2 linked regions of the Homo sapiens genome follow. The protein of the gene in region 1 interacts with the protein of each later gene in a pairwise test. Each region holds a gene or a part of one and is shown in the gene's direction. Other genes may lie near its edges.

What was found. The genes of interacting proteins can lie anywhere in the genome.
Region 2: the proteins of RAB5A (region 1) and ZNF20 interact in binary tests that used the Homo sapiens proteins (3 or more experiments, as listed by UniProt).

The regions. Positions count from the first base shown.
Region 1 is NC_000003.12:19,950,097-19,953,596, forward strand, and holds part of RAB5A (ras-related protein Rab-5A), read left to right. Parts: intron 1-709; 5' UTR 710-802; coding exon 803-965; intron 966-3,500. UniProt on the Homo sapiens protein: The small GTPases Rab are key regulators of intracellular membrane trafficking, from the formation of transport vesicles to their fusion with membranes.
Region 2 is NC_000019.10:12,134,101-12,137,350, reverse strand, and holds part of ZNF20 (zinc finger protein 20), read left to right. Parts: intron 1-1,446; coding exon 1,447-1,582; intron 1,583-1,790; coding exon 1,791-1,851; intron 1,852-3,250. UniProt on the Homo sapiens protein: May be involved in transcriptional regulation.

The DNA.
Region 1 (3,500 bases):
ACAATTATTGTAAGTAAATAAGTCAGTAATAATCACCACATGGAGAACAACTGTTAGCATTTCTGTGTATGGTGTGCTTGAGCAGATGAGGAAACAGTTTTAAGTCTGCCGTTAGGCACACAAACCTGGGAGACTGAAAATATTTGTTGTCCAAAATTACCATTAATTAAATGAAAAATGCATCGTTTAACAGAAAACTTCAAATAATACTAAATTTTAGGATCTGTTCTAAAAGTTTCCCATTTATTAATAACATAATTTTTCTCAAAACAATGTTAATCCAAGTAGCCTGGCTACAGAACTTGAACTCGAGTCATCTCTCAGGTTGCCTGGGTTTGAAACTCGGCTCTGTCACTTCTGTGACAATAACTGTGTGACCTCAATTAAGCTTCTTAACATCTCTGTGCTTGTTTCCTCATTTATAAGGATTGTAATAATATCTCATTTTATAGGATTGTTGAGAAGTTAAGTACTTAAAGCACTGCCTGGCACAAACTTGAAGCTTTGAGGTTAGCCTTTAAAAAAAAAAGTAATTTTGGACTCACATCCTATACCTTTGAATTTCCTTTAAAAGATAGTGACATAATCTAAAGGGCATTGAAGGTCTAGTAGAGTTTAAGATAATCATGCTATAGGCAATATTTAAAGTGATTAATAGTAAATTTGCTTTACTGATTTGTATATTTAATTCATAATTGTTTCTTTACAGGTTTCTTTACCTCCAGAAAGAAGAATATTGGCCCCTTGAATTCTGGAAGTTCATTGAAGAGTCTGAAATTAGGGACTTATTTCAAATTTGGACATGGCTAGTCGAGGCGCAACAAGACCCAACGGGCCAAATACGGGAAATAAAATATGCCAGTTCAAACTAGTACTTCTGGGAGAGTCCGCTGTTGGCAAATCAAGCCTAGTGCTTCGTTTTGTGAAAGGCCAATTTCATGAATTTCAAGAGAGTACCATTGGGGGTGAGATTTTCTTTTTTCCCTGCTTCATTTAATCGAATCATACATTGACAGAAAATATTTTGATGTTCCAATTGTGTGATTATGAATAGCTAAATAAGTCATAGAGTGAAGAAAAGAGCTGTTCAGCTTACCTTAGCTTTAAAACTTGCCTTTATCTTTGTTAAAATGATGTGTTTTTATATTTGATTGTTTGGTTAATCCCTTGTGGTTATATTGTAGCTAAAATACAGATAAAAAACATGAGTAGAATCAGTGTCTCAAGTAATAACATTTGACCTGATACCTATTTCTAGCTAACAACTAGAAGCTTCTTCAAATTAATACAGTACATGTTTGTGCTCAATTATATTGGTTTAAAATGAATAGTAAAAAAGGTAACCTTAAATTCTGATCTATATAACTGAAGTATTTGCAAATAATTATACTTACTTGTAAAATTAAATGTAATTAAATACTGCTAGATGTACTTTTTTTTGGTATTTAAGAGATGGGATCTTGCTGTCGCCTAGGCTGGAGTGCAGTGTCCGGATCATAGCTCACTGCAGACTGCAGCCTGAAACTCTAGGCTCAAATGATCTTCTTGCCTTAGCCTCCCACCAAGTAGTTGGACCTAAGGGTGCATGCCACCATGCCAGGCAAGTTTTTTTTTTTTTTTTTTAAGAGTCAGAGTCTCGCTGTGTTTCCAGGTTGGTCTTGAACTCCTGGCCTCAAGTGAGCCTCCAGCCTCAACCTCCCAGGTAGCTGTGATTACAGGTGCTCCCTGCTGAGATGCATATGTAAGAATGCTCCTAAGCTGAGGGAAGAGAAAAAGTGATTAATGGAAAGGGACATAACAGGAAAATGGAACCTGAAGAAAAAGATGAAAGAAGAAGGGAAAGAGTAGGCACTGACAAGGGTGGTTATGGTGGGACAGAGATGAGGGGAAGGTAAGATGCAGGGTGAAAAGGAGACAACAAACAGTACAGTATTGTCAAGAGAGGACGTGAAATGGGAAAATTGAATTTTAGCTGGACATGGTGGTGCATTCCTGTAGTCCCAGGTATTTGGAGGCTGAGGCAGGATTATTTTAGCTTGGGAGTTCAAGTCTAGCCTGGGCAACATAATGAGAACCCATCTCTTAAAAAAAATTGACTTTAATCAAAGAAACCTATAATTATATAGCAGTGGGACAAGATAGCCTCTTTTGGGCCTCTGTTTCATCTGTGAAATGATGCTTTTCAATTAGATGATGTGTGGCAAGAGCCACACGGTTTGAGATTCACAATATTTTGCAAGTGATATATAATTAAGCAATGCTGTTTTCTAAGGTATTCATGTATATATTTTAACCCCATCCTGTAAAATTAAAGTCAAACTTTGGAAATAAGACAGGTAGATACCAACTGGCATGTGGCAACTTCTTGGAATCTGTCTTTCAGAAGCAAAACTTTATACTGTGCATTTAGTGAATGCTCTTCTGCAAATATACTTGAGAATGTTATTCATAATCTTAGACCCATTCTAGTAAGATAAGTTACAGAAGTCTACTACCTCCTGGCCTTTGTATATCTTGTTAAAATGTTATATTAGAATGTTTTATGTTTTTTCTAATGGCTGAGCATCAGAAAGCATCATGGAGCTTTTATTTTGAGTCAGAAGTCTTGGCATTTTAAAAAATGTTAATACACAATATATTAGACATCTTTGTGATTTTTTTTTTCCCTGAAAGTACATCCACGTGTGATTTTGTTGTTGTTGTTGTTATTGTTAATACATTATATCCAGTTTAATAATGAAATACTACTTCTCAAGAAGGCTTTGCTTCCTCCAGAAGTGATTTGGTCAAAGCTAACTGTCCCATCTAGTAGGAAAAGTTTAAAGACTGCTAGATCATGTCCACCCACTTATTTCACTGTTAATGGAAGCATTTCCCAAAGTATATGTGCATTCTGGGTTAAATAACCTGGGCCACGTAGGTTTGGGACTTACTATATGCTACTCTTCTCCTCTCTCTTTATTATTTTATTAAAACAATAAAAACTCTGAAGTACTGTAGTATAGGACTTAATTCCTGGGGAGCTTTGCAAGAGCTTAAGATTAGAATTTTTATCTTGTTTTGGATAATGCACTTCTAAGTTTATTTTTTCCTAATGATAGCTCAAGAAGGATGTTTAAAAGAAAAATGTAACCCCATATCCTGTGTATCATAAATATATCTCTGATATGTGTGTATCTCTATATAATCTCCATGTAACACCAGTTAGATTGTCTAGATTTCATTAATGAATTTTTCATAAAGATTTTCATTTCTATGTGTAGAGCTTCCTGTTTAAAAACAAAAAGGAATTTGCATCCAAATTTCTGTTAATCCTTTTTTTTTTTTTTTTTGGAGACAAGGTCTCTGTCGCCCAGGCTGGAGTGCAGTGGTGTAGCCCTGGCTCACTGCAACCTCCGCTTCCCAGGATCAAGCAATTCTCATGCCTCAGCCCCCCAAGTAGCTGGGACTACAGGCGCAAGCCACCACTCCTGGCCAATTTTTGTATTTTTAGTAGAGAT
Region 2 (3,250 bases), on another chromosome or scaffold:
CTGTTGAGGTCAAGTGCAGCTTTCTTCTTCTTCTTTTTTTTTTTTTTTTCTGAGACAGTCTCTTTCTGTCGCCCAGGCTGGAGTGAAGTGGCGCTCTCTCAGCTCACTGCAACCGCCGCTTCCCGAGTTCAAGCGATTCTCCTGCCTCAGCCTCCCGAGTAGCTGGGATTACAGGCACGCACACACCCGGCTAATTTTTGTGTTTTTTAGTAGAGAGGGAGTTTCACCATGTTGGCCAGACTGGTCTTGAACTCCTCACCTGAAGTGATTGGCCTGCCTTGGCCTCCCAAAGTGCTGGGATTACAGGCATGAGCCACTACACACGGCTTGAGTACGGGTTTCTTCTGTTATAAGAAAGTGAAACCCATAATGAAAATGCATGGTAAGGTAACATAAGAAGTCACGGTAACAGGCAACTCTAGAATTAATTCATATGGAGATGATGGGCTTCAAAGATTGTTTGTTCTCCTGTAGGTAACCATCTGTCCCTGTTCCTTCTGGTAAGTGAGGACCACTTGCATAATTGGCTGGTGATACCTGCTTTGTCGTGGTTTCACTATTTTCAGAATCTGCTGTTTTCCATTAGTCTATCTTTCCATCTGTTAATACCATTTTCTCTTGATTAGTATAGATTTTATTTATTTTATTTTATTTTATTTTTTCGAGACGGAGTTTCACTCTTGTTGCCCAGGCTGGAGTGCAATGGTGCAATCTCAGCTCACCGCAATCTCTGCCTCCCGGGTTCAAGTGATTCTCCTGCCTCAGCCTCCCAAGTAGCTGGGATTACAGGCATGTGCCAACATGCCCAGCTAATTGTGTATTTTTTTTTTTAATAGAGACAGGGTTTCTCCATGTTGGTCAGGCTGGTTTCGAACTCCCGACCTCAGGTGATCCGCCCACCTTGGCCTCCCAAAGTGCTGGGATTATAGGCATGAGCCACTGCGCCTGGCCTATTTATTTTATTATTATTTTTTTGAGATGGAGTATTGCTTTGTCGCCCAGGCCGGAGTGCAGTGACGCGATCTCGGCCCACTGTAACCTCTACCTCCTGGGTTCAAGTAATTCTCCTACCTCAGCCTCCCGAGTAGCTGGGACTACAGGCACCCACCACCACGCCTGGCTGATTTTTATATTTTTAGTAGGGACGGGTTTCTCCATGTTGGCCAGGCTGGTCTCAAACTCCTGACCTCAAGTGATCTGCCTGCCTCAGCCTCCCAAAGTGCTGGGATTACAGGCGTGAGCCACCGCGACTGGCCAAAGACCCTCTCTCTTAACAAAAAAAGGGTTGGTTTGTGGGAGGACGTGAGTATAGACAGAAAGTAAGAGGTGTGATGACCAAGTCATGGGATAAATGTTTGGAGTCCACAGTATCATGAGAACTTCTTAGGAATAAAGTATAGGCCTCCAGGGCTGTTAGTCTTACCTGTCCTCTTTTATATATGTGAGATGTTTCAGGATTCAGTGGCCTTTGAGGATGTGGCTGTCAGCTTCACCCAGGAGGAGTGGGCTTTGCTGGATCCTTCCCAGAAGAATCTCTACAGGGATGTGATGCAGGAAACCTTCAAGAACCTGACCTCTGTAGGTAAGAATGACAATATTACTTCCCAGTGAATTAGAGAACAAATGCTTCTAGCTCATCAATGCTGTTCATTGATTTGGAACATGGACAAAAAATACTTTGATGAATAAATCAGGCATGGCTACCATGTACCATGAATACAGAATCTAATGATTTTTAAATAAATTCATACTAATTCTGGATCTGTGTTTTCTCCGGGTCTGTGTTTTAGGAAAAACATGGAAAGTTCAGAACATTGAAGATGAGTACAAAAATCCCAGGAGAAATCTAAGGTAATTTTCTCTCGCAAGACAAGGCAATGCCTCTAGAAAATCTTAAAATGTGAGAAAATAGGCCGGGTACAGTGGCTCACGCCTGTAATCCCAGCACTTTGGGAGGTCGAGGTGGGTGAATCCCAAGGTCAGGAGTTCGAGACCAGCCCGGCCAATATGGTGAAACCCTGTCTCTACTAAAAATACAAAAAAATTAGCTGGGCGTGGTGGCACATGCCTGTAGTCCCAGCTACTTGGGAGGCTGAGGCAGGAGAATTGCTTGAATCTGGGAGGCAGAGCTTGCAGTGAGCCGAGATCGCACCACTGCACTCCAGCCTGGGTGACAGAGCGAGACTCCGTCTCAAAAAAAAAAAAAAAGTGAGAAAATGTTAAAAAGAAGCAAAAGAAATAAGCCCAGTATCAAATTTATGTATTCATAGAAAGTTTTCCTAAAAACATATGTTTAAATGTAACATACGCTGGGCTGGGCACTGTTGCGCATACCCCCAAATGCCAGTCCTTTGGGGCTTTCAGACCAAAGGATTGCTGGAGGCCAGGAGTTTGAGGCTGCAGTGAGCCATGTTGGTACCACTACACTCCAATTTGGACAACAGGGTGAGTTGAGACCCCAACTCAAAAAAAAAGACGCACATGTTTAGTATTTGTAAAATAGTTTACTTGAAAATAGGATTACAAAGCCCCATAGAAATACTAATTTTAAAAAAATATATATACCCAGACCATCTTGTAGAGCATATAGTCCATTAATATTCAAATGATTCAGACAGAGCAGAAAGCTGACACTTTGCCGGGCAGTGTTAACAATGCAAGTGCAATAGTTGTTAATGATATAAATCATGTTTTTTTCTTCTTTTTTGAGACAAGAGTCTCGCTGTGTCACCCAGGCGGGAGTGGAGTGGTGTGGTTTTAGCTCACTGCAACTGCCACTGCTTGGGTTCGAGGTATTCTCGTGCCTTAGCATCCCAAGTAGTTGGGATTACAAGCGCACGCCGTCACACCTAGCCAATTTTTGTATTTTTAGTAGAGACAGGGTTTCGCCATGTTGGCCAGGCTGATCTCAAACTCCTGGCCTCAAGCCATCTGCCCGCCTCAACCTCCCATGGTGCTGGGATTACAGGCGTGACCCACCATACCCAGCCAATATAGATCACTTTTTTATTTTTTTATTTTTTTTTGAGACAGAGTTTCGCCCTTGTCACCCAGGCTAGAGCACAATGGCGCAATCTCAGCTCACTGCAACCTCTGCCTCTGGGGTTCAGGCGATTCTCCCAACTCAGGCTCCCGAGTAGCTGGGATTACAGGCACCTGCCACCACGCCCAGCTAATTTTTGCATTTTTAGTAGAGACGGGGTTTCACCATGTTGGCCAGGATGGTCTCAAACTCCTGACCTCAGGTGAT